4 linked regions of the Homo sapiens genome follow. The protein of the gene in region 3 purifies or fractionates together with the protein of the main gene of each other region. This does not show direct contact. Each region holds a gene or a part of one and is shown on either strand. Other genes may lie near its edges.

Region 1 (6,156 bases), on a different chromosome or scaffold from region 3:
AGGCAGGGAAGAAGGGCTCACAGGACAGTCAAACCATGACCCCTGTTTTTCCTTCTTCAAGTAGACCTCTATAAGACAACAGAGACAACTAAGGCTGAGTGGCCAGGCGAGGAGAAACCATCTCGCCGTAAAACATGGAAGGAACACTTCAGGGGAAAGGTGGTATCTCTAAGCAAGAGAACTGAGTGGAGTCAAGGCTGAGAGATGCAGGATAAGCAAATGGGTAGTGAAAAGACATTCATGAGGACAGCTAAAACAATAAGTAATGTAAAATACAGCATAGCAAAACTTTAACCTCCAAATCAAGCCTCTACTTGAATCCTTTTCTGAGGGATGAATAAGGCATATGCATCAGGGGCTGTTGCCAATGTGCATTAGCTGTTTGCAGCCTCACCTTCTTTCATGGAGTTTAAGATATAGTGTATTTTCCCAAGGTTTGAACTAGCTCTTCATTTCTTTATGTTTTAAATGCACTGACCTCCCACATTCCCTTTTTAGTAAAATATTCAGAAATAATTTAAATACATCATTGCAATGAAAATAAATGTTTTTTATTAGGCAGAATCCAGATGCTCAAGGCCCTTCATAATATCCCCCAGTTTAGTAGTTGGACTTAGGGAACAAAGGAACCTTTAATAGAAATTGGACAGCAAGAAAGCGAGCTTAGTGATACTTGTGGGCCAGGGCATTAGCCACACCAGCCACCACTTTCTGATAGGCAGCCTGCACTGGTGGGGTGAATTCTTTGCCAAAGTGATGGGCCAGCACACAGACCAGCACGTTGCCCAGGAGCTGTGGGAGGAAGATAAGAGGTATGAACATGATTAGCAAAAGGGCCTAGCTTGGACTCAGAATAATCCAGCCTTATCCCAACCATAAAATAAAAGCAGAATGGTAGCTGGATTGTAGCTGCTATTAGCAATATGAAACCTCTTACATCAGTTACAATTTATATGCAGAAATATTTATATGCAGAGATATTGCTATTGCCTTAACCCAGAAATTATCACTGTTATTCTTTAGAATGGTGCAAAGAGGCATGATACATTGTATCATTATTGCCCTGAAAGAAAGAGATTAGGGAAAGTATTAGAAATAAGATAAACAAAAAAGTATATTAAAAGAAGAAAGCATTTTTTAAAATTACAAATGCAAAATTACCCTGATTTGGTCAATATGTGTACACATATTAAAACATTACACTTTAACCCATAAATATGTATAATGATTATGTATCAATTAAAAATAAAAGAAAATAAAGTAGGGAGATTATGAATATGCAAATAAGCACACATATATTCCAAATAGTAATGTACTAGGCAGACTGTGTAAAGTTTTTTTTTAAGTTACTTAATGTATCTCAGAGATATTTCCTTTTGTTATACACAATGTTAAGGCATTAAGTATAATAGTAAAAATTGCGGAGAAGAAAAAAAAAGAAAGCAAGAATTAAACAAAAGAAAACAATTGTTATGAACAGCAAATAAAAGAAACTAAAACGATCCTGAGACTTCCACACTGATGCAATCATTCGTCTGTTTCCCATTCTAAACTGTACCCTGTTACTTATCCCCTTCCTATGACATGAACTTAACCATAGAAAAGAAGGGGAAAGAAAACATCAAGCGTCCCATAGACTCACCCTGAAGTTCTCAGGATCCACGTGCAGCTTGTCACAGTGCAGCTCACTCAGTGTGGCAAAGGTGCCCTTGAGGTTGTCCAGGTGAGCCAGGCCATCACTAAAGGCACCGAGCACTTTCTTGCCATGAGCCTTCACCTTAGGGTTGCCCATAACAGCATCAGGAGTGGACAGATCCCCAAAGGACTCAAAGAACCTCTGGGTCCAAGGGTAGACCACCAGCAGCCTAAGGGTGGGAAAATAGACCAATAGGCAGAGAGAGTCAGTGCCTATCAGAAACCCAAGAGTCTTCTCTGTCTCCACATGCCCAGTTTCTATTGGTCTCCTTAAACCTGTCTTGTAACCTTGATACCAACCTGCCCAGGGCCTCACCACCAACTTCATCCACGTTCACCTTGCCCCACAGGGCAGTAACGGCAGACTTCTCCTCAGGAGTCAGATGCACCATGGTGTCTGTTTGAGGTTGCTAGTGAACACAGTTGTGTCAGAAGCAAATGTAAGCAATAGATGGCTCTGCCCTGACTTTTATGCCCAGCCCTGGCTCCTGCCCTCCCTGCTCCTGGGAGTAGATTGGCCAACCCTAGGGTGTGGCTCCACAGGGTGAGGTCTAAGTGATGACAGCCGTACCTGTCCTTGGCTCTTCTGGCACTGGCTTAGGAGTTGGACTTCAAACCCTCAGCCCTCCCTCTAAGATATATCTCTTGGCCCCATACCATCAGTACAAATTGCTACTAAAAACATCCTCCTTTGCAAGTGTATTTACGTAATATTTGGAATCACAGCTTGGTAAGCATATTGAAGATCGTTTTCCCAATTTTCTTATTACACAAATAAGAAGTTGATGCACTAAAAGTGGAAGAGTTTTGTCTACCATAATTCAGCTTTGGGATATGTAGATGGATCTCTTCCTGCGTCTCCAGAATATGCAAAATACTTACAGGACAGAATGGATGAAAACTCTACCTCGGTTCTAAGCATATCTTCTCCTTATTTGGATTAAAACCTTCTGGTAAGAAAAGAAAAAATATATATATATATGTGTGTATATATACACACATACATATACATATATATGCATTCATTTGTTGTTGTTTTTCTTAATTTGCTCATGCATGCTAATAAATTATGTCTAAAAATAGAATAAATACAAATCAATGTGCTCTGTGCATTAGTTACTTATTAGGTTTTGGGAAACAAGAGATAAAAAACTAGAGACCTCTTAATGCAGTCAAAAATACAAATAAATAAAAAGTCACTTACAACCCAAAGTGTGACTATCAATGGGGTAATCAGTGGTGTCAAATAGGAGGTTAACTGGGGACATCTAACTGTTTCTGCCTGGACTAATCTGCAAGAGTGTCTGGGGGAACAAAAAGCCTCTGTGACTTAGAAAGTAGGGGTAGGAGGGGAAAAGGTCTTCTACTTGGCTCAGATTATTTTTTTCCTCTAGTCCACTAAGAATACTGCGTTTTAAAATCATTTCCTTGATTCAAGTTCCTATTTCTCTTTATATTTTGTTTGTTTAAACCTCCTTTACTAAAATTTACTCTTCTTTCTCTATAGCTTCCCAACGTGATCGCCTTTCTCCCATCCCCCTGTACTTTTTCCCCTTGTACTAAATTAACTCCTCAGGTGAGGAAAAACTTTTGAAGTGCAGAGTTCTGCTTCCTGCTATTAAAAGATGTAATTAAAACAGCAAAGGTAGCAAGCATTTATGAGGTCAGCGTAGGGTCTCAGTGTTCCCTAAGGGCCCTGTCAGTCATCCTGAATCCTGCCCCTACCTGGAAACCCATGTCGGTTTAGTAAGGAAAGTGTTATACTTTTACTTTGCATGTTTCTCCTACTTCTTCCTTTCAGCTCTAACACTCTGAAACTACGATTACACAAAATAAAATAAAATAAAATAAAATAAAACAATAAAATGAAATAAAATTTAGGTTAACCAAAAGAAACTGGATCCTCTATTTCTAGTTATCAGAAGGAAATTTACAAATTTCTTATTTCCATTGCTTTATTCTCTTAAATGCTTTCTCTATTATTGCTAAATAAATAGAGATCTCTCACTTTTTCTACCTGTCTCAACCCTCATCAGGTACTTGTGAAAAAATCTCACTCTGATTATTCTCACACACGCAGAAAGTGTTTGGTTCTTCTATGGCTATCTGGAGCCTAGGTTAAAAAATTATGCCTATGTATGATTATAGAGGTAAGAGGGATAAAATTTAAGTATTTTCTTTTTATATTCATTCCTCTGTAAAAAACTAAAGCAATGAGGATCTAGGCACACGTGTATCCCTGAGAAAAGATTTCACATGTTGAATCCTGGGAAAAGACGTCTTTAAAATATTTTAAATGTTAAAACATGCAGATTTGACTTGGCTGTTAGATTTTGGATTTTATTTTATTAAATTTAAACCTGCATTAGCATTGTTTTAGATTTAGACAGTTTTCAAGACCCTGTTTCACATCCCTGATATAAGAGGCATGTATATGTGAAATAAAGTGTTCTGCGGAAGTTTGAATATGTCTTTTGCAAATATCCTGGGTCAAAGAAAATGCACAGACTTTATGAAATTATAATATAGGTTATATTTATAGTATTCTGAAAGACCAAAATTGTCAAAGCAAGAGCTTTGAAATCCTGATTGGCAGAAATTGTCACCTTCTTAAAGACTTACCCTACAACTTCTTATGCTCAGAAATAGTTTTCCTTTTTCTATTTTGTTTTCTTTTTTAAATGATGAACTATGGATCCTTCTCTTGTGTTGGCAACTGCTGCAGATACCATCATCCTGGCTTCAAGGCAGGGGTTGCTTTTCCAATGGTAGTTACTTAGTGTGACTAGAGTGTAACGCAGACTTTTCTTTCTATTACCCATAATACCCTGCAGGGACAAGGCTGCAAGCTATACTAAGACCATCAAAAGCCCAGGCATACCAGGCAAATAAGTTTCAAGAAGCAATAAATAGTGCAAATTTGGTTATGGTCAGAGCCTCAGTTTCAAATCTAAATCAGCATTCAAAGTTCCTGAAAAACTATTCAAGCTTACTGACATCTTCACTATTGTGAGCTTGCTTCTACTCTGTGAATGGATGCCACAGCAGGTGCAGGTCTATTCTACTTTTATTCCAGCCCCACTGACCACAACACACACACACACACACACACACACACACACACAAGTCCTCAAAAAAGAGACAGCGAGAGAGACAGAGGTCCATTTCCTTTACTCCAGTCTATTAATCTTTCTTAAGTCCTAATGTTTTATATCAGAATGGCCCTAGTCTGGGTATACTTAGAGGATGAATATTAACTTCCTCCATGAAAATCATGACACTCATCTATGGGAGTGTGGTTTTATCATTTGTTTCAAAAGCAGCACTTGACTAGAGTATTTTTATACATGCTCTACTGTTTAGTCTAAAATTCCCCAAGTGAGACATTTTAGCAATCTACTGTATATGTTCCTAGGTCAAGCACAGTCTAGCTACTTGCTACAGACTTCTCTCGCAGATACACAATCTCTCAGTAAACACAACTCAGCAGCTCTCAGAATTAATTAATTAAAATGAAATAAAAATGCTCCAAGAAAACCAGAACCCATAGAAACAAACCGCACACACACAAAATAGTTTGGAAATAGGATAGTTTAGTTCACTTTAAAAAGTTGTATTTCTTACCAAAAAGCAATAAAGTCAACATAGACAGAACTTTGCTAAAGTATATGCATAATTATTACAGAAAAATTTATATTTCAGTCTGCACCTTGTTCATTAATATTTCCTCCACTGGGCTCAGATTTTCATTCAGAATTAGCTTTTTTTTAACCTCATTAAGTGGGCCATGGTGTCAATTTATGGAGAGCAGAGGTACAGTCTTCAGATAAATTTGAGATTGCATCTCTTTAGAGGTAGAATCTTGGCTTCAGTCTGAACACCCTTTACAAACATGTAGGCATTAATTCAGAGGACTGCTCTGAAGCTCAAGAGATGGATGATTTAGGAGACTATTAGGCTTAATTCTCCTGACATTAAATTATTTTATTGAAAAATTTTCATGAACTCAAATTCACATTATTACGTCCTCTCTTCCCTTCCTCTCTCCCTCTCTTTCACACACACACACACCCTTTCATTCAGACATACTGAACATAGTTTATAAAGCAACGCCATAGTGAGAAAAGAAAAACAACCATTTGATAAATTATCAAATAAAATTAAAGCCAAATCTTGAGGAATTAATTCCATTCCTATACTTTGTTTTAACTTTCATTTTAAATTTGGGGGTACATGTACAAGTTATATAGGTAAATTGCATATCACTGGGTCTTGATGTACAGATTATTTCATCACTCAGTGATGAACTTAATACCCAATAGGTTCTTTTTCATCGTCTCCCTCTTCCCACCCTCAACCCTCAAGTAGGCCTGGGTGTCTGTTGATCTATTTTTTGTGTCCATGTGTATCATCATTTAGCTCCCACACTCCTAGACTCTTACAAAAGCTCTACTCTAACAA
Region 2 (7,029 bases), on a different chromosome or scaffold from region 3:
AGAGCTTCATATAAATGGATCTTTTTGCTATTGAAGTAACTTTTTCTGCTTATGAGGTAGTTTTTTTAAAGTCTGCATGCTTCTCATAGAAAGGATAGAAAATAAATATGATTCAAATTTGTCATCAATCTCCACATCCACAGAAACCATATTAATATTTTTACATATCTCCATACAATACTTTTTCTGCATATTTACTTATACTTTTAGCCAACTTTCTTTCTTTCTTTTTTTTTTCTTTTGAGATAGGGTTTCGCTCTGTTTCCCAGGCTGGAGTGCAGGGGCACAATCACAGCTCACTGCAGCTCGACCTTCCAGGCTCAAGCAATCCACCCGCCTCAGCCTCCCAAAGTGTTGGTATTACAGGTGTGAGCCCACACTTAACCAGCTTTCTAACTAAACTAACCTCATGAAAAAATAAAAAAAAATAGGCCAGGTGCGCTGGTTTATGCGTGTAATCCCAGCACTTTGAGAAGCCAAGGCTGGTGGATCACTTGAGCCCAGGAGTTCGAGACTAGCCTGGGCAACATGGCAAAACCCCACCTCTACAAAAAATACAAAAACTAGGTGGCCTTGGTGGCAGGAGAATTGCTTGAGCCTGGGAGATCGAGGCTGCAGTGAGCTGTGATCATGCCACTGCACTCCAGCCTGGGCAACAGAGCAAAACCTCATCTCAAAAACAAACAAACCAAAACAACAACATAAAAAATACCATCTGAGTCCATTTCCTATGTTTTAAAATAGATTTTTTAGAAATGTAATTTTTAGCAGCTATATATTTTTTCCAGTTTCTTTTATTGTGGTAAAATACATGTAACATAAAATTTACTATCTTAACCACTTTAAGGTATACAGTTCGGTGGTGTTAAATACATTCATAACGCTGTACAACCATCACCACCATCCATCTCTATAACTCTTCACCTTGTAAAACTGAAACTCTGTACCCATTAAAAATAACTCATTTTCCCCTTCCCCAGCCCCTGACAACCACCATTCTACTTTCTGTATCTATGCTTTTTGACTACTCTAGGAACCTCATATACATGGAATCATATGGTATTTACTTTTTGTGACTGGAGTATTTCACTTAGCATAATGTCCAGAAGGTTCATCCACCTTGTAGCATGTGTCAGACTTTCCTTCCTTTTAAAGGCTGAGTGTCTGGGCGTGGTGGCCCACACTTGTAATCCCAGCACTTTGGGAGGCTGAGGCTGGCGGACTGCATGAGCTCAAGAGTTTGAGACCAGCCTGGAAAGCATGGTGACATGTGCCCCATCGCCTTCTGGTTCGGGTCAAACCTGAGGCATCGAGATTTAGTGGAAAGAGCGGGGCACAAGTCAGGAGGCCCAGGTTCTAGTTCCAGACCTGCCATTAGGTTTTGTAACCTTGGGGAAGTTATTTCTCTGTGCTAGGCCTCTGTTTTCCTCTCCGTAAAATGAAGCGGTAGTAATCGATGTCCTCTATACTAGCATTATGGATCTGTAAGTCTGTTTCTGCTGCAGGTGACCAACCACATAACTCGAGACAGGGACAGCGGGAGGCTCAAACCTGCCCTCGGACGCTCCTGGAGCTTTGTGCCCAGCACTCGGATTCTCCTGGACACCATCGAGGGAGCAGGAGCATCAGGCGGCCGGCGCATGGCGTGTCTGGCCAAATCTTCCCGACAGGTGAGCCAGCCCCAGGAAGATGCCAGTAATCTTGGGCCCTGGAGGGTGGTTTCCATACCCACAGATGTCTTCGAGAAGAACTCTTTAGAGGCTGAAACCTTGCAACTAAAGAAGCTACCCACTTGGGTTGCTTAACTCCACTGACTCCTTACTTCTTCTTCCAGCCAACAGGTTTCCAGGAGATGGTAGACATTGGGACCTGGGGGACCTCAGAGCAGAGTGCCACATTACAGGGTGATCAGACATGACCTGTGCTGTTGTTTGGGAAACAGGGAAGCATTGGGGACCCCTCCCAACTTTTCTTCCCAGTAACGCCTGCTGTTTACTGCCACCTGGCACTGGTGACTACAGACGTTCTCAGGCTGGCCAGAAGAGACATCTTGGGTTCCTTGGCCTCACTCTCTGTAAGCATATAAACCACAGGCGAAAGAGGATGCTGCATTGCGAGGACCCAGAAATTCATACTGGTGCCACGTTTCCTTCCCTTATTTCTAACGTGTATGTTTCTGGTGGAAACCAAGTTCACCCTGGCTGGGAGCATCTCTGATGAGGCATGCTGGCGACTGGATGGATAATCCTGTGCATCACCATTGTGTCCTGTGCTCCCTCCTAGCGCAGTGGCCAAGCCGGGAAAGCCTCTAACTTGCCTTTGCTGCTGCTGCCTTTTTTTTCTTTTGTCTCTGCCTTTCCATTTGTTAGATGGGGGCCCACTCTTCCTTAGCTCTGTCTCTGAGTTACTGGGTGGAAATAAGCTTATAAATGAAATACTCTTCTTCATCTCTGTTTTGCTCTTAAAAATATAAAAAGGCAATTCCCCGAGCCCTAGAGCCACCTGATTTCCCCTTAGAAGGCTGTTTTTCAGTTTCCCCCAGTGAGGCCCAAAGAACAGTTTATTCCTCCTTTCCTCTTGCTGATTTGGTTTCAGACCTGCCTGCATCACCATGACTAGGTGAGAACGTGTGGGCTCGCTGCAGTTCCAGGGATATAATTTAACAGAAAGGGAGGGTATGACCTGCTCCTGGTGAATCCAGCCACTCATTTAATATGCATGGTGCCCTGTGGGGCCCCTCCACAGTACAGCATAACCAGAGGTGCTGAACCATGGCCTTGCCCATAAACAGACAGAGGAGAATTTGCACAGTAAATAGAGCCAGCTGGGAAAATTGATGCTGACGTAAATAATACATGGCAAATCTAGTCCTTTATGCAGAAATTCATTGCTGGTGGCTCCAAGATGCAATATAATTACACCTCTCTTCCTGCCAGCTGTACCACAGCTAGTGCCCTAGTGTATGAAATAATCCCTCTGTCTTTCACCAGCACTGTGGCCATCCGTCTGAGAGCCATGACCCTGGCTGGGAGGGGACGAAGACACCAGGGAATGGAAAATAAAAGGAAAAGTACAGAAATGATCAGGATTGGTTACTGGCCACATCTTTTAAAGGAAGGTCATCTTTCTTGGTTAGAGAGCCTGTTGTGTAATTAATCAGTTATGTCTTGGCTGCAGGAAAGGAGGGTCCGAGTTACACTCAGAAAGTAATGACATTTAGAGGTGATGAATGCAACAGGGATAGAATCATGGAGGATTGGGAAGGAGTGGCAAACTGGCACCAGGGTGTTGGATTCAGGACAGGGTTGGTAAGCCTAAGCCTGGGGGAATCCTAGCGCTTGCTTTCACAGAAGACCTCAGGAGAAATTAATCTTCAGTATCTTTATACCATGGGTGATTGGCACATTCCTGCAACCACAGTAAGATGCAATACATGAAGCTGGAAATTGCAAATTCTTGCCACTCAAGGTACTATTTGGGCATCTTCAGCCCACAGCAGACATGACCAATCGGGCACAAGCACTCTTTTTTGTGGAAGTCAAAGTGTTTTTAGAAGTTTTTCTCAATATAGCACTCCAGGGGGCCACTACCAGTCAGTTGGAGTTGGTATTCAAGGTGGAGTCTGGTTGCCGTCTCTGCCCTGTTCCCATTATGTAGTGAGTTCAGGTACTTAATACCTAACTGAGGACCCTAGGACTGCAGTTTGAGATCATCTGGGGCCAGGCACAGTGGCTCACACCTATAATGGTAGCACTTTGGGAGCCTGAGGCGGGAGGATCACTTGAGCCCAGGAGTTTAACAGTTTAAAATCAGCCTGGGCAACATGATGAGACATCGTTTCTACAAAAAAATTTTTTAAATTAGCTAGGCATTGTGATGTGCACCTGTGGTCCCTGCTACTTGGGAGCCTGAGGCAGGAGAATCGCTTGAACCTTGGAGGTTGTGGCTGCAGTGAGCCCTGATCGCACCACTACACCCCAGCCTGGGTAACAGAGCAAGACCCTGTCTCAAGGAAAAAAAAAATCATCTGGCCCATCCTGTTACTTAACAGAGAAGGTACCTGAGGCTCAAAAAGGATGACTGACAGTCCTAGTGGCAGAATGGAGGTGGGATCTGGAACCCACAACTTGATTCCTAGGACTCTTTTTTTTTTAATTCCCACATTGGCTGGGTGTGGTGGCTCACGCCTGTAATCCCAGCACTTTGGGAGGCTGAGGTGGGTGGATCACCTAAGGTCAGGAGTTCCAGACCAGCCTGACCAACATGGTGAAACCCCGTCTGTACTAAAAATACAAAAATTAGCCAGGCATGGTGGCCCATTTCCTGTAATCCCAGCTACTCAGGAGGCTGAGGCAGAATCGCTTGAACCTGGGAGGCGGAGGTTGCAGGGAGCTGAGATGGCGCCACTGCACTCCAGCCTGAGCGACAGAGTGAGACTCCGTCTCAAAAAAAAAAAAAAAATGCAAAAATTAGCCAGGCGTCGTGGCGCATGTCTGTAATCCCAGCTCCTCGAGAGGCTGAGTGGGGAGGATCACTTGAGCCCAGGAGGCAGAGGTTGCAATGACCTGCGATCATGCCACTGCACTCCAGCCTGGGCAACAGAGACTCTGTTTCAAAAAGAAAAAAAAAATCCCCACATTTTATTTAATTTTCAGTCCATACAGTTCTATTCCTGCTAGGGCTGTAACTCCAGCTGAAGGCACCACAGCTGTCACCCAAGGAGTTTCTGTGGCCATGGGAAGGTGTTGCATTCACTGCTACTTGAGACCACCACGTGACATTCCTGCAGGCTGTGCCCCTCACAGCCAGCTTCATCCTTTGGCTCCTCCTAGACCAGGACTTTGTCTTGCCTGCCTGCTGCCACTGCACTCTGTTCCGGCCACACCACACTGTGCAGTCCCCTGGTAGGACTTGGGCTAGGCTGGCTCTCCTGTCCAAGTGCCTTTTGCTCCCTTTGCTTATGTGTCTGTCTCTGCCCAGCTCCCACTGTGTCTGGTGCACACCCACCCTGACATCCTTTTTTATGCCTCAGCTGTGATCTAGATAGATGCTTACAGTAACTTCCCTGTATTAGTTATTCACTTGTACTTTCTGTTCACGTGTCTGCCTACAGGCTCCCACTTTTTGTCACTTTTTCTCTTTATACATTATGGAAGCTCAGTAATGATTAAATAGATGAATGATGTTTTAAAAATATATTTTAAAAAAGCAAAGGACTGGCTCTATCTCAGGGGTTCCTTCCATAAAGCGTCAACTTTCAATTTCCCCTGCGGGGGTGGTTTGAGACCTGAGGGCACTCTCTAGTTCTTAGGAAAAAAATATACATATACATATACATATATATATATATATACACACACACACACACACATATACACACATATATATACATATATATACACACATATATATATATACACACATATATATACACACATATATATACACATATGAGCCAGGCGCAGTGGCTCACGCCTGTAATCCCAGCACTTTGGGAGGCCAAAGTGGGCGGATCACAAGGTCAGGAGTTCAAGACCAGCCTGGCCTATATAGTGAAACCCTGTCTCTACTAAAAATACAAAAATTAGCTGGGTGTGATGGCTCGCATCTGTAATCCCAGCTACTTGGGAGGCTGAGGCATGAGAATCGCTTGAACCTGGGAGATGGAGGTTGCAGTGAGCCGAGATTGTGCCACTGTACTCTAGCCTGGGCAACAGAGTGAGACTCCATCTAAAAAATATATATATATGTTCACACCCACATCATTGAGTCCCCAGAGTGTCTTCTTACATATCTTTTTACAGGGGACTATTGTATGCCCTTCGTCTGACATCAGATGAAATTAATGTTGAGATCCTACTATGTGCTAGCACTTGATGGCCTTAATTAAAAATCAGGCATTTGAATTCCCAAGGACTCAGGCAAAGGTCCATGTATCATTAAGGCTGCAAGTAACAAAACCTAGGCTTAAAGAAGTGTAAATACTAGGGACACTTATTTATATTTATTTCTTTTATGTTTCAAGACAGAGTCTTGCTCTGGAGTGCAGTGGCACAATCACGGCTCACTGTACCCTCTACCTCCCAAGCTCAAGTGATCCTCCCACTTCAGTCTCCCAAGTAGCTGGGACTACAGGTGTGTGCCACCACACCCATCTAAGTTTTGTATTTTTTGTAGAGACGGGGTCTCTGTACGTTGCCCAGGCTGGTCTTGAACTCCTGGGCTCAGGTGATCTACCCGCCTTGACCTCCCAAAGTGCTAGGGATTACAGTCATGAGCCACCATGCCTGGCAGGGACACTTATTATCTCTGATAACAGGAAGTCTGAGGTTTGTTAATTTAGTGGCTCATTGTCAAATGGCGTAGAGCCTTTGCATCCTTCTGCTCTGTTCTTTTATGTTGGTTTTGTCTTCAAGCTTGTTCCCCTTATGAAAGCCTGGCTGCAGCCATTTTGAGCATCAATCCAGACGTGACAATATCTACAGGCAGGAGAAGGATCGCCTCCTGTGTGTCCTTTAAAGAACAAGGTGTTAACATGCCAGGAACTGTGGCTCCTGACTGTAATCCCAGTAATTTGGGAAGCCAAAGTAGGAGGATCGCCTGAGGCCAGGAGTTCCAGACCAGCCTGGGCAACATAGCAAGACCCTATCTCTATAAAATAAAATAATAAAAATTAAGAAAACAAGGTGTTAAAAGACAAAATTAAAGCAAATATAGTTTTGCAGATTGTAATTGACTTTTATTTGCAATTCTAGAATTGGGCTGCCCTCAGAACCAGGACAGGTTCAGAGAATTCCAGAGCTGCAACATAGTCTGAAAGCATTTATGGTCAGAAAACAGAAATGAGATACAAAGACAACTAATTGGTTACAGCTCTGCCTTTGCCTTATTTGAAAATGGTTTGAATAGTTGGCTGCCTGGAACCCACTGAAGCTGATGATGTGATTGGCTGAGCCTCAGCAATCTGTTACAAAAGTATACTCCTAAATTAGGTTTTCAGTTAGTTTGCATACTAAGGCTGCAGTTTGT
Region 3 (7,401 bases):
AAGGGGCAGTCAACACTTGAATTCGGTCAGTCTGAATCCTGAGCTGGAACTATTATCCTCCATGCCATGCTGTCTCCTCTAAATACACTATGTTATGCTACATTGGTACAGACATCTAATTGTAGGCCATAGGTTTAAAAAAAAAAACCTATAATAAGAAAACTTAAAATTTTATCTACTAAGAACATTCTTCCTGAAAAACTGGAACAAAAAGAGCCCCATTGCAATTTGTTTTTAAAAAGCTTTGTCAAAATTATAGTACATAGCTGGAGAATCCCTGGTGGTAGATAACCTTATTTACCTAATGCCCTATATCTTGATGATGAACACAGGCAATATGGCACAGTTAGGTACAGAGGCTTCGGATGTTAAAAATTCGCATGTTGTTAAGTATCTCCATTTTTGGAGCAATCTTTCTATTACTTGCTTTTGGCCAAATCAAGTGGATTCAGGCTTGGAGATAGATACGAGTTGTGCTTCCACACATTCTTTTCTTTTTTCAGGCAACAATGAAGAAAACATTTGCTCTCCAGACAAGAAAAAGGAGACTTACAGAGTGATTTAAATCACCAGTCTGAGTAAATTCTTCCAGGTTCTGCCATTTCAGATAGCAAGTTCTCAGCATTTAATCTCCTGAATTTCCACTCAAAAGTTGATGGTATTGTATTATGATCACCACCACTTACCTGGGTATGTCATATACACGGTCTGCGATCCGACTTCCAACCTGAAGGATTACACGAGGCGTAGGTTAACGGGGAAGTAACACTCTTTTTCCAGTATTCAACAATCCACAAGTTACTTATGTTTTAAAATAAGTACTTCCCTTTATCCCCTTTTCAATTTCACCACAGGAACTTTCTTCTCAAACCACCAGGAAACAAAATTGAGGCAAATTATTTCAGAAGTCAATTTCATGAAATCCAGACTAAATATTCTTAAAAATATACATATACACACACACACACACACATATATATATGTGGCCTTTACATTCCATGTGACATAAGATCACAAGGATGAAAAGCAAAAGGAACACAACAGGCACATTACTGTCCACGGATATTAGCATGAGGTACACAAAGTGAAAAATTAGTTAGTTGGGGTTTATTGTAGATGAGTATGTAAGTGGTCACTTAAGAAAAACTCTATTATTTGATGACTAACAAATTTTGTGGAACTCATAAATGAACAACTTTTCTGAGTGACATTCGCAAGTTAGAAAAAGCCAAATCTGAGGAAAGTGCACCTCCCCTGCTCCAATCCCATCCCAATTTAAGAGTCATAAGGTAAGCACCACCTTTTGCTGGCCTAGCTTCATCTGGTAGCAATAAAGACGTGGGAGTCTAGTATTCCCCACATTCCACTCATTCCCTCATAAACACCCCAGAGTTGCTCTTAGGACTTAAAAGTTCCAAACACAGATGTACCTGCTTTTTGAGAGAAGGGCAAGGGAGAAGGGAGCGTAGATGTTTTTCCCAGGAGTCCACCTTGTACGTCATTCCTAATATGAACACCCTATGTTTATTATAAAAAGAACTCTCATATACTTTATCTTATTTGTTCTAGTCTCACAAATTGGCGAGGCCTCAATCAAGTTGTAGTCCAGGTGCTTTCTTTGGAGGGAAAGGGCTATGAGCGCACATCTTCTAAGTACACGACATCAGCAGTGTAGTACGTGCACCATGCCTTACAAGTGAGACACAAAAAATTTATTGGTAGTAAACTTCCTATAATAGACATTACCAGCCTAAGACTTCCTGAGAAAGACACCCTGTCAATCATCTGATCAGACCTGTACTTGCACAGAGCTCTGCTCAAGCTATGAGTTCAATAACTGTTTGTTGCATTATACTTGACTCCAACTTTGTTCCACTCCTGAATAAAAATTTACTGAGGCCTGAACTTGAGAATGCGTGTCCTGAAAGTAGAAACCCTCAGTCTCTGGCTCACCTGGGCAGGGAGAAAGGTTTCTCAAACGAGCCAAGACAAATCAGAAATCTTAATTTGATCTTCCTAAAACATAAGTCAGATCACTCCACTGATTAAAACAAGAGCTTCACATTCCCCTAGAGCAGTGCTGACCAAAAATCATGAGAGCCACATATGTAATTTCAAATTTTCTAGTAGCCACATAAGAAAAAAAGTAAAAACGAGAGAAATTTTAATTGAAAAATTTAAATTTATATTTAATATATTTCATGTGACCCAATATATCAAAAATAATCACTGCAACATGTAATCAATATAAAAGCTCTTAATGAGCTATTTTACATCCTTTTTTCATACTAAGTCACTATACTCGTGTGTATTTTACAACACATCTCAATTGGACTAGTCACCTTTCAAGTGTTCAACAGCCACATGTGTGGCCGGCAGTTACCATACTGGCTGGACAGTGCAGATACAGAAGAAAACCCCAAGTCCCTATCCTGCAAGGCCCTGATGATTTGGGTCCTCCTAACCTTCTCTCCCACTCTCTCCCTCTCCGGAGCTTCACTGGAGGCCTCTATAAGGTCCTTTCAGCCTCAAGGACGTTGCCGAAATGAATGCATGAATGAATGAAAGCATGTTACAAATATCCGAGGCCAGGCCTTGCGTGATTACAGTAGAGGCCGAAAGAGGCAGGGCTGCTGGTCAAGGTCAGACGGCTAGGTGGGGTGAGCTCGGGGCCTAGCCGGAACTAGCGGAGAGGAAAACAAGCCTCCGCGTCGCCCGCCCCGCCGCCCCGCCGCCCCGCGGGCTCACCTCCTCCTTCAGGTAGTCAAATTTGGTCGGCTCGGGCTGCCGGGCTGCCCAGTTCTTCTGTTTCCTTTTCAAATCCCGGTCGAAAATATTCAGGGTTCTGGGCGAGGTGCTACCGCGGGGAGAGACACCAGAGGTGACTTCCCTACGGCCAAGATTCTCCGCTGGGACCCTCGCCGCCCAAGGTCGCCGACATAAGCGCCAGAGCCCTGCCGGCCGCAGCATCTCCAGCTGCGACCCCAATTGCCGGCGCTTTTTGTGCGCATGCGCCAGCGCGGCTTTTGTGTCTACTCCAAAGATCTTCTCGAGGGAACGTGCAAGTAGTTTGGCCTAGTTCGCTTGCCATTACGGCGGAGCGTCACGCGGAGGATTGTGGGTGTGAGCCCCACGTGAGGCTTGGTAGGACTGCGGACGGTGAGTGGGGATGGACTGGAGTTGAAGAGCTCGAGATGAAGGGCTTGAGGGCGTGTGTGTGTGTGGCGCGGGGAAAAAACTAGTCTCTAACAGGATCTCTTTCGGATCTGCGAGGGGTTTTGCCCCTTCCTCCTGAGCCTTTTTCGGTCTCATTCTTCAGTCTTCATCGATCCTTTTCAGGGTCGCTTCTCGAATCAGTCTGTTAGCTGCCCCCCTGCGGTACAGGAGGTGGAAAGGAGACCCTAGTTCAGGGGCCAGCCCTGTGTTCTCCGAATTAGAGAGCGGGCAGAAGGGGAGGGTGGGCTACGGGGATGCGGGCGCGTGTCGGGAGTGAGGTCCGGTCGCCTTCCCCTCTCTCGGATTATCTGACATATAATGAGTGCTTTCCTTCTAAACATTTACAATACATGCAGTACTTCTCCTGGTTGAGGTGGTACCTACCTCGTAAGATTGCTCAGAGAGTTAAGTGCTGTAATACATCGAAAAATGTGTAAATGCACCAGCGATAGCTTCCTTTTTTTTCCTAGTTAGTGTAATTAAAAGGACTTGATTTTTAAATAAGAAATATTGCCCTTTTAATCATTTTGGGGGGGGGTTGCTTAATAATCAACGACTTTTGGCTCTTTGCAAAATTCCCATCCAGAGATGCTAAACCATTGGAGACTTTTCACAAGGGAACAATATTAATTTATACACACATATGTATATGTTCTAGTATGTTTTGGGGGAATGAGCTCACTTGGGCCTTCATCACTGGTAGAATCAGATATTATAGAAAGAAGTGATATTTATTAACTGGTGTGAGACTTTACCTGGAGACTCAAATTTACTTTTTATTTTTAAACTTTTTATTACTTTTGAAGGATGATCGAATTTAAAAAGGAAACTTTCTTAGCTAAACCTGAGTTGATTTTGGTCTGTTTAGTTAGAATGCTAGTCTTACAGAACTAAAGGCTGTTTGTTGGCAGTAGCCGGAGATAAGGAGTAAGCAGAATGAGACCAGAATGTGAAGAAACAAATGAGGCCAACGGAGGCTAGGGAATCTTTCTTTCTTACTTTTTTTTGGTAGACAGGGTCTCACTCTGTTGCCCCAGCTGGTGTGCTGTAGTGCCGTTAGGCTCACTCTAGCCAAGACCTCCCGGGTGGAAGTGATCCTCTTGCCTTAGCCTCCAAAGTAGCTGGGACTACAGGCGCGCGCCACCATGCCGGGCTCATTTTTGTATTTCTTGTGGGGATTCACCATGTTACCCAGGCTGGTCCTGAACTCCTGGGCTCAAGTGATCCGCCCGCCTTGGCCTCCGAAAGTGCTGGTGAGCCACCGCACTCGGCCTAGGGAATCTTAACTACATTTGCCTTCAATTAGTAACACATACTGGTATACAAATAGAAATTCTAAGTGAGAGCAATGGATGAATAAACATTTGTTCCCCTCCATAAAGCCCTGGGATTCTGCTTTGTCTACCTTAAGTTTATTTCTCTAAATGATCTGTCATGGAAAGAGGATATTTTGGTATGTTTCTGCTTTTTTGCATGTGACCCAGAATACGTTGGAGAGATGAAATTAGACTTGTTACCTCTATTTTATGTACACTTAACTTAGAATATATTAACTTAGAATATATTGTGAATGTGTTTTAAAACATTTAATTATTGTACTAACCATTATTACCATTAAAACATTTGTTTTATTTTTCAGTATTTGTTTTCTTCAAGCATTTGGTCGAGATTAAGAATTAAAAATGTCATCCAAACAAGAAATAATGAGTGACCAGCGGTTTAGACGGGTTGCAAAGGACCCGAGATTTTGGGAAATGCCAGAAAAGGATCGAAAAGTCAAAATTGACAAGAGATTTCGAGCCATGTTTCATGACAAGAAGTTCAAGTTGAACTATGCCGTGGATAAAAGAGGGCGCCCCATTAGCCATAGCACTACAGAGGATTTGAAGCGTTTTTACGACCTTTCAGATTCTGATTCCAATCTCTCTGGTGAAGATAGCAAAGCATTGAGTCAAAAGAAAATAAAGAAGAAAAAAACCCAGACTAAAAAAGAAATCGATTCAAAAAATCTAGTTGAGAAAAAGAAAGAAACCAAGAAGGCTAATCACAAGGGTTCTGAAAATAAAACTGATTTAGATAATTCTATAGGAATTAAAAAAATGAAAACCTCATGTAAATTTAAGATAGATTCAAACATAAGTCCGAAGAAGGATAGCAAAGAATTTACACAAAAAAATAAGAAAGAGAAAAAAAACATTGTTCAACATACTACAGACTCTTCTCTCGAAGAAAAACAAAGGACATTAGACTCAGGCACCTCTGAAATTGTGAAATCTCCCAGAATCGAGTGTTCTAAGACAAGAAGAGAAATGCAATCAGGTAGGTTGGAAAAAATTAGAGATTCTTGGGTGTTACATTATTTATTTTTATACTGATCTTTCAAAAATGTAAACACATTAATAAGTATTTTCATAGTATTATGGAATGGTCAAATGCTTATCTGGAAATACAAAGCTATAAAAGAAATATGCAGTGATTATTAATTTTTGATGTGGTGCTAGAAGACAGACATGAAAATTTGAATCTTGAAGTTAAACAGTGATTTTGATTAGTGGTGAGCCCTAATGAGAACTATATTCTCTAACCAGATAAAGTGTTATATGTCATCACATGATAAGAAGAGATGTGTCTAAAGAGGGTAAGTAGGCCGGACATGGTGGCTCACGCCTGTAATCCCAGCACTTTGGCAGGCCAAGGCGGGCAGATCACTTGAGGTCAGGAGTTCAAGACCAGCCTGGCCAACATGGTGAAACCCCATCTCTACTAAAAATAAAAAAAAATAGCCAGGCATGGTGGCGCACACCTGTAGTCCCAGCTATTCGGGAGGCTGAGGCAGGAGAATTGCTTGAACCTGGGAGGTGGAGGTTGCAATAAGCTGAGATTGCACCACTGCACTCCAGACTGGCTGACAGAGCGAGACTCTGTCTCAAAAGTAAAATAAAATAAATAGGGTAAGTAGGACTCCGTCTCAAAAATAAAATAAGAGGGTAAGTAGAGTTGAGTACTCATTCATTAATTTGTTCAGTTGCTTTGCCACTAGTATGTGGCAGGCAGAATATGAGTAAGGCGTCGTCACCCATCTCAGGGCTGTCGCTAGCTTATATGATGCCTTTATGCAAATTAGAAAAAGGCATGCTCTCTGGACACACAGAGCTCCCAGGGGTCACACTTTGGTGAAGAGATGGCGCCTTTGAAGCAACAGATTTTTTGCCCCTGAGCAGACACAGCCCCCTCCAGAGTGCATGGCTTGGTGAGTGTAGGATGGCCTTGATTTTAGCCCTTCTTGTCCTTTTATAAATGCCCCTGTGCGGATAACAGCCTGCTAAACTTTGTGCAGTGGCCCCTGTCTAAAGCAACATTGTCTAGTAGAAATACATAATTTTGGATTTTCTAGTAACCACATTAAAAAGTAAGATGAAACAGGTAAAATTATTTTAAATAATATATTTTATGTAACCCAATATATCAAAATTATTTCAATATGTAATCAATATAAAAGTCAATGTATATTTTACATCCCATTTTCTACTCATTTCATACTAATACTATTTTCATATTAATGTCAAGTTAGACAAAACGCATTTCAAGTGCTCCGTTACCACATGTGACTACTGGCTACCATATTGGACAATATAGATCTAAAGTAGAAGAAAGTCAGAACCATAATACAAAATGCAATAATAGTAAGTGCCGTAAAAGATGTTTAGCAGAAAGCCATGGAAATCTGGAGGAAGAAGTCACTCAAGATGTGGTAATCAGAAAAATTCATAGGGGACGCACTACTTTGGGGTGTGGAAAAATTTAAGTTTGAGGACCAGAGTGTGCTACATGGAAAGAACTTTTTGAGCAAAGATGTGATTGGGCATGTTCAGAAGAGGTCAGTAGTCCCGTTTGATTAGATAATAAGGTCTTGAAGGGCCAAAATGAGTAGCAGCGAGAAATGATTGTTTGGAACTAGGTGAGAGACAGCTGGCTCTAGTTTGCATTACGTGTTTACTAATTAAAATTTTTTGTCACCTCCAGCAGCAAGCAATTTTGAGTGTTGATGTTGCTGATAGTTGAAGATGTAACTGAAAACCAGTAGTAGTTCACATGAGCCAGACCTGTGATTACAGGATCCAAGGAGGGGTCTTGATAGGCCGAGAGGTCTTGATAGGCCAAGAGGTCTTGATAGCCCAAGAGTTC
Region 4 (7,029 bases), on a different chromosome or scaffold from region 3:
GAAAGAGCCTGGCTGGGAGACATTCATACAGTTTGTTACAGAGATGAGGAGAGCTAAAAAGGAATATGGAGGAGGGTATCAACTGATGAGATGGATTGGTTGGTGGGAAAACCTACTAATCAACAAACAATCTGGCACTGGAAATAGGCAGTAACATAAAGGAGCAAGTGTAGATTTAGTTTCTTGGGCAGTTTGATGGTGAAGGGGAGAAAGGAAATAGTGTGGTGGCTTAAGGCAAAAGCTGATTCAGGAAAGGGTTCCTTTTTATTGTTTCTATTTTTAGGACGAGGAGATTTTAGATTTGAGCATGTTTGTAGGACAAGGAAGAGAGCAAGTAGAGGAGAAATTGAAGACGAGAGAGTAGAGAAGCCAGAGCAGCACAGGCTCACTGTTAGGATGGGAAAAGGACACTGCTTACCCTGAGAAAATGGTAGCTGATATGGGAGAATCTCTACAGATTAAACAGTGCATGTGTGGCAAGGGTGGGAGGGGAATTGAGAAAATTCAAGCCTGATCAACTTGTCTTTGAAGTAGGAAATTAGGCCATTTACCAAAATCCAGTAGCTTAAGTGGATGAGGGAGTTGAAGAATTTGAGAAAGAATTGGAAACCACATGGAATAAAATGGGGGGCTGCAAAAGGACAAGAAAAAGGACTCCTGGGCAGAGTTCAGCTCTACTCAGGAAAGAAATGATACTTATAAAAATGAAAAGGTTTTCAACAGTTTCTCCCCATGAGCCCTTCAGATTTATGATCCAAAGTTGACAGAGGCATGATATGTTTCCTAACATATGGAGAGAAGAGGTTGAAGACAAAAGGATGTTGCCATTTCTACGATGAAATGGATATTCATGCCCTCCTACCAAATTTGGGGGCGAAATGTCATGAATTTGACACCCAACAGTAGAGCAGGTGAAAAGCCAGAACTTTGGCAGCATTTTCTCTGTACAAATCTTTGTATGTTCTGTTCCAAACTAACAGTTGCAGCAGTCTTTTAATTGAAGCACTAAAACAAGATTTTTGGGAACAGTGTGACTCAGATCACATTTATTTTTAGAGGCGGAATTCAAAAAATAATAATGATGATAATCATATAGTCAGGTAGAATAGGGGATGGGAACTTTAGTAAATTGGTGAAGGACACTGAATCCCATATTGGATTTTATTTATTATTTATTTTTAAATATCTTTTAAATTTTTGCATTTTCTGCTTAAATAGATTGAGTTTTAATGAGCTCTAACAGGCTATGGAGGCACCTTAGCATATAAGTGAAGTTGATTAAATCAAAAGCATGCTTGGGAAAGATGGTTTTGACTCCTGTAAGAAATAATGAATGAGGGCTGGGCGCGGTGGCTCACACCTAGAATCCCAGCACTTTGAGAAGCCCAGGTGGGTAGATCACAAGGTCAGGAGTTCAAGACCAGCCTGACCAACATGGTGAAACCCTGTCTCTACTAAAAACACAAAAATTAGCTGGGTATTGTGGTGCGTGCCTGTAATCCCAGCTACTTGGGAGGCTGAGGCAGGAGAATTGCTTGAATCCGGGAGGTGGAGGTTGCAATGAGCTGAGATCACACCACTGCACTCCAGTCTGGGCCACAGTGAGACTCTGTCTCAAAAAAAAAAAAAAAAGAAATAATGAATGAATGAATGGAGAAGAGCCTAGATATGAGTAAGATGAGAGGTTGTGTTTGTGAATGGAAGGAGTGAAATGAACATTTATAATGTCGAAGACTAATTTCTTACCTAATAGATATACTAACTCAGGTAATTATATTAATTATTTGTTGCTCTGTGTATCTAATCATGCAACCTGCTAGATAGGGCATGTGCCCACATTGGTTCTAGCAGAGTTATCCATAGGGTTCCTAATGAGCTTTCTAGCCTATTTGAGGATTAAACAGGGATGTTAAATGTTGGAAAGAAACTTTTTTTTGAGACAGAGTCTCCCTCTGTCATCCAGGCTGGAGTGCAGTGGCGCAATCTGGGCTCACTGCAACCTCTGCCTCCTGGGTTCAAACAATTCTCCTGCCTCAGCCTCTTGAGTAGCTGGGACTTTGCATGCATGCCACCAGGCCCGGCTAATTTTTGTATTTTTAGTAGAGACAAGGTTTCACCATGATGGCCAGGCTGGCTTCGTACTCCCGACCTCAAGTATCCTCCCGCCTTGGCCTCCCAAAGTGCTGGGATTACAGGCATGCGCCTGGCCAACTTTCTTGTGTCAAAGAGAACCTATAACAGATACTAGAAATAATGAATATATAGTCAGATTACTCAAGTGAGTTTATCTTCATTTTAATATTCCCTGAGTCAAAAAGTTCGGTTTTAGTGCAATGGAAAGGATAGTAATTGATGAGAGTTGTGTAGGTGACAAGTAGAAGAGCTAGGATTTGGACCCAGGCAGTCTGACACTAGTGCTGGTGTCCTTAACCACTAAGCAATATGCCACTGCTATACAGTAAAGCCCTTTGTAAATATCTGGAGTTTATTTCTTGTTTTTATAATACTATGTAATGATGATTTATGATACCCTACTCTAGGAATTATTGCTCAGTACCCTGTGTGTGGTTTTGTTTTTATTTTTTTGTAAAGAAGTGAATGAGAGGCCAGATGCGGTGGCTCATGCCTGTTATCCCAGCACTTTGGGAGGCCGACACAGGCAGATTATCAGAGGTCAGGAGTTCGACGCCAGCCTGGCCAATATGGTGAAACCCCGTCTCTAATAAAAATATAAAAATTAGCCAGGTGTGGTGGCGTACGCCTGTAATCCCAGCTACTCCGGAGGCGGAGGCAGGAGAATTGCTGGAACCTGGGAGGCAGAGGCTGCAGTGACCCGAGATTGTGCCACTGCACTCCAGCCTGGGCGACAAAAAATAAAAATAAAAATAAAAAAGTGAATTGAGAGTCCCTTGTTGTAGTCATAAGCTATTTGGTTACCTCATAGGCTAAGGACCCTTTTGCTGCACTCTCACAAGGTACCTAAAGGAATGTAATCAATGTAAACAATGAATGGATTTGGAAGTGCTCTGGATCTGAAAGCCCTAAATGATCAATTATCTCAGTAGTCTGGTGATAGAAACCTAGTTTAGTGTGGTCCCAAGGTCTGCAGTCTCGCTCCTACCCCAAGCACCCTACTCTCCAACTGTACATTACTCCCTAACAGTTGCCTCTGCCTTTGCTTATCCTGTTCCCTCAATTGAGGCAACTTCTCTGCCTGGTGATAACTAACTTACCCTTCAGGACCAGCTCAGATGTCATTCTGTGAGAGGACGAAGCTAAGCAAGAAAAGGAAGAGAGAAAGGCCCAGAAAGACCTTGGGTTCTCACAGTTGTTAATGAGTGGGGAAATGCACAATAACAATAAAGACAGAAGTGGGGCGATGAGCAGAGCCATATGAAGAATATGGCAGTCTCTAAATATAAGAGAAAAATGGCCATACATTTTGTCTGTTCTCTAGAAGTTACAGGTAAAGCACCACTAAAAAATAGAAAGCCAAGTGGGTTGGGAATCAAGAAAACTGCATTCAGCTCCCATGTGTGAGGCCTTGGGTCAGCCACATAACTCCTCCTGGCTTAAGGGAGTTAGACTTGATTTATAAAATCTCGTGTAACTCAAACCTTCCTTCGTGCTCGCAGCATGAAGCTATTTATTGATTTCTAAACAAGAATAGAACAAAAATTATTTAATGAAGAGAATGATCAGAGCTTTGGTTTGCTTCTTTCAATGTGGGCTTGTTTTCAAATTTCAATTAAATCAAAACCACCTGCAAAAGAACAGATCTACTGAATCAACCATGTCTTCCTACACAGTGTACTGAATTTTTCAGTACAGCAACAAACTTTTAGATCTGACATTGTTGTTACACTCAGCTAAGCCTAAATCATAGCCAGAGGTGCAGATTCAGAGTCTAAGCTAGGTAAGGACTTATGCCCAGTAACTAGCAATTATTTAACTGGGAGTAAGGAGTAAGCAGATCTGATTACCAGAGAATTTAAGTATTTTGTCAAAAACTATTTTATAAATTCTTTCCAGTCAAGTCAGTTCACAATCCAGTAAGCTGTGATCAGAGTCATGGCATTGGTCATAAACGTTCTTAGCATGCAAGGTAAAACAAATGCTAATGATGCCCCTACACTCTGCTTCCCGCAGGAGATGCTGAACATAAGCCATATATCTGTGGGGATGCAGATTCTGCCTCCACTGTTCTGGATGGGACCGAAGACTACCTCATTCTGGCCTGTGATGGCTTCTATGACACCGTGAACCCTGATGAGGCAGTGAAAGTTGTGTCCGACCACCTGAAAGAGAATAATGGAGACAGCAGCATGGTTGCCCACAAATTAGTGGCATCAGCTCGTGATGCTGGGTCAAGTGATAACATCACGGTTATTGTGGTATTCCTGAGGGACATGAACAAAGCTGTAAATGTTAGTGAGGAATCAGATTGGACAGAGAACTCTTTTCAAGGAGGGCAAGAAGATGGTGGGGATGATAAGGAGAATCATGGAGAGTGCAAACGCCCTTGGCCTCAGCACCAGTGCTCAGCACCAGCCGACCTAGGCTATGATGGGCGTGTGGATTCATTCACTGATAGAACTAGCCTGAGCCCAGGGTCCCAAATCAACGTGCTGGAAGACCCAGGCTACCTAGATCTCACACAAATAGAAGCAAGCAAACCTCACAGTGCCCAGTTTTTGCTACCAGTTGAGATGTTTGGTCCTGGTGCACCAAAGAAAGCAAATCTTATTAATGAGTTAATGATGGAGAAAAAATCAGTTCAGTCATCATTGCCTGAATGGAGTGGTGCTGGAGAGTTTCCCACTGCTTTCAATTTGGGTTCAACAGGGGAGCAGATATACAGAATGCAGAGCTTGTCTCCTGTCTGTTCAGGGTTGGAAAATGAACAGTTCAAATCCCCGGGAAACAGAGTTTCTAGATTGTCTCATTTACGCCACCACTACTCAAAGAAGTGGCACAGATTCAGGTTTAATCCAAAGTTTTATTCATTTCTCTCTGCTCAAGAGCCTTCCCACAAAATAGGCACTAGCCTGTCCTCACTTACTGGAAGTGGGAAGAGAAATAGGATAAGAAGTTCTCTGCCATGGAGGCAAAATAGTTGGAAAGGGTACAGTGAAAACATGAGGAAGCTCAGAAAGACTCATGATATTCCATGCCCAGATCTTCCTTGGAGCTATAAAATAGAATAATTTTTCTTTCAAGTAGGTTAGCTAGCTCTCCCCCAATAAAAATACCACTATCAGAGTAGAAACAAGGTAGACATTTCTAAAACATATGTGCTTCATTATGAATCCATGGATGGCTCAATTCTTAAATGTAAATAGATCTCTAGGAAACTCAAAGTACAGTGTTTTCAATCTAAAAAGAAGTATTGGCAGTTTCACTTGCAAAATTACACAGCTGGTCCCTGTGATGTGTCTCGACACCAATACACAACCCCCTTCCCACCATCCTTCATGTCACTAGATACACAACCCCCTTCCCACCATCCCTTCAGTCACTAGTGGAAGCTTTCAAGTTAGTTATTTCAGTCAGGATATACAGTGTTGAAATCTCAATGCAGTTGAAATCTGGTCTGATGTGCCTAATTTATCTGTGGAAAATTTAATGCTGAATTACATTTGGTTGGGAAATGTCCCTCAAAATCCTGGGCACTATGAAGGAACCCCCTGCCCCCTCACCTTTTTGGGTAGGTAAAAGACTAAAAGCCATATGGATTTTAACTGATAACAATGAAAGTGGTAAATCAGTGTAAAAGTGTCATATTCTCAGACTTGTGAGGCGGTTTATAGTCAGAAAGATTTACGGATTTTTTTCCTGTAACATAAAAGATTGTGAACTTTTTTTAATTAAAAAATATTTCCTAGGGCTGTAGTTATTTGGGAGTTTCATAACCTGTTATGGTGCTTTTGGTGGAAATTTTTATTATTTAGCATTTTAGGAGACCGCTGTCAACTGGTTTTAATCTATGATGCTAATGTGTTTTCCACTGTACCCTCATCTCAGGAATAAAACTGCTTTAACGGAGATGATGTCAGGTACAAATACACTATAGAGTCAAAATACCATTTACAAAGAAAATCAAAAGCATTTCTATATTTTGTCTTTTTTTAGTTCAGACAGCAAAGGCATGTACTACTATAAAATACAAAGTGATTTTAGAGAATGAAAAATGCTACTTTTATCTTCTCTAAAATTATTTCCCCCAAGGTAGTGAAGTAATTGGAATGAAGGAGGCTGAAAGTATTGTCTAAAGTGAGCCCAGAGGCCACTGAGAATGCAGATTACTGACAGCCAGGTCTGTTTAGTTGTAATTGGAAGACACATGAGTGTCCTGCTTACATGTAGCTTCAGACTGCAGAGACAGGACGTGTGCTTTTCATTTCAATATTTAGTTATATTTGATATTTTGAAACTGTCTGCTTTTTGCTATTTCTGCAGTTTCAAGTTAGTTAGAAGCATGTTGTCAACTAAAGACAACAAACTATCAGATTCATTCATTCAGTGAAGCAGCCTCTGATTCTCTAAGAGTCACGAATGTCTTAGTGTTACCCTCCCCTAGTCAACAGCAGACCAGCCTGGCCAATGCCTATGGGTGGCCCCTCTGGAGTGCTCACTAACAAGGGTGAGTGCTCTCGCTAAGAAGTGTCCCCCGCCTAATCATGTGTTTATAGGATAGTACACGTTCCCCAGGCCCATAACAGAGGACTAAAATCTCTGAATTTTAAAGACACAGATGACTGGCATATTTTGGATACCAGTATAGCTATATCAAATAGACAAAAACAGCTTCACTTTAGCAATGATCAGATTGTTAATCTACAGATTTTATTTTTTAAAATTTGGATGTAAGTAGAGACTTTCAGTATTTGTTTTCTCTTGATTTTGAAGTCATTTCTTCTTCTCACGTCTGTGACAAATGGTTGAAAAGGAGTCAACATGGCCCCAACTATAGTGCCGGAACCTTTTCATCATTCTGAGGCTTTGCCCCACACATGGTCCTCACTCATA

The links.
Region 1: the proteins of NDUFAF5 (region 3) and HBB purify together in Homo sapiens (affinity purification with mass spectrometry; 3 studies listed by BioGRID and IntAct, with this or other methods). This does not show direct contact.
Region 2: the proteins of NDUFAF5 (region 3) and RAD51D purify together in Homo sapiens (affinity purification with mass spectrometry; 3 studies listed by BioGRID and IntAct, with this or other methods). This does not show direct contact.
Region 4: the proteins of NDUFAF5 (region 3) and PPM1E purify together in Homo sapiens (affinity purification with mass spectrometry; 3 studies listed by BioGRID and IntAct, with this or other methods). This does not show direct contact.

The regions. Positions count from the first base shown.
Region 1 is NC_000011.10:5,224,935-5,231,090, forward strand, and holds HBB (hemoglobin subunit beta), read right to left. Parts: upstream 2,138-6,156; 5' UTR 2,088-2,137; coding exon 1,996-2,087; intron 1,866-1,995; coding exon 1,643-1,865; intron 793-1,642; coding exon 664-792; 3' UTR 530-663; downstream 1-529. UniProt on the Homo sapiens protein: Involved in oxygen transport from the lung to the various peripheral tissues. LVV-hemorphin-7 potentiates the activity of bradykinin, causing a decrease in blood pressure.
Region 2 is NC_000017.11:35,095,842-35,102,870, reverse strand, and holds part of RAD51D (DNA repair protein RAD51 homolog 4), read left to right. Parts: intron 1-1,505; coding exon 1,506-1,670; intron 1,671-1,834; coding exon 1,835-1,918; 3' UTR 1,919-7,029. UniProt on the Homo sapiens protein: Involved in the homologous recombination repair (HRR) pathway of double-stranded DNA breaks arising during DNA replication or induced by DNA-damaging agents. Bind to single-stranded DNA (ssDNA) and has DNA-dependent ATPase activity.
Region 3 is NC_000020.11:13,780,638-13,788,038, reverse strand, and holds the start of NDUFAF5 (arginine-hydroxylase NDUFAF5, mitochondrial), read right to left. Parts: upstream 3,012-7,401; 5' UTR 2,971-3,011; coding exon 2,749-2,970; intron 1,690-2,748; exon of another isoform or gene 728-1,689; coding exon 687-727; intron 1-686. Other genes in the region: ESF1 homolog, read left to right, coding at 4,899-5,535. UniProt on the Homo sapiens protein: Arginine hydroxylase that mediates hydroxylation of 'Arg-111' of NDUFS7 and is involved in the assembly of mitochondrial NADH:ubiquinone oxidoreductase complex (complex I, MT-ND1) at early stages. May also have methyltransferase activity.
Region 4 is NC_000017.11:58,975,825-58,982,853, forward strand, and holds part of PPM1E (protein phosphatase 1E), read left to right. Parts: intron 1-4,149; coding exon 4,150-5,207; 3' UTR 5,208-7,029. UniProt on the Homo sapiens protein: Protein phosphatase that inactivates multifunctional CaM kinases such as CAMK4 and CAMK2. Dephosphorylates and inactivates PAK. May play a role in the inhibition of actin fiber stress breakdown and in morphological changes driven by TNK2/CDC42.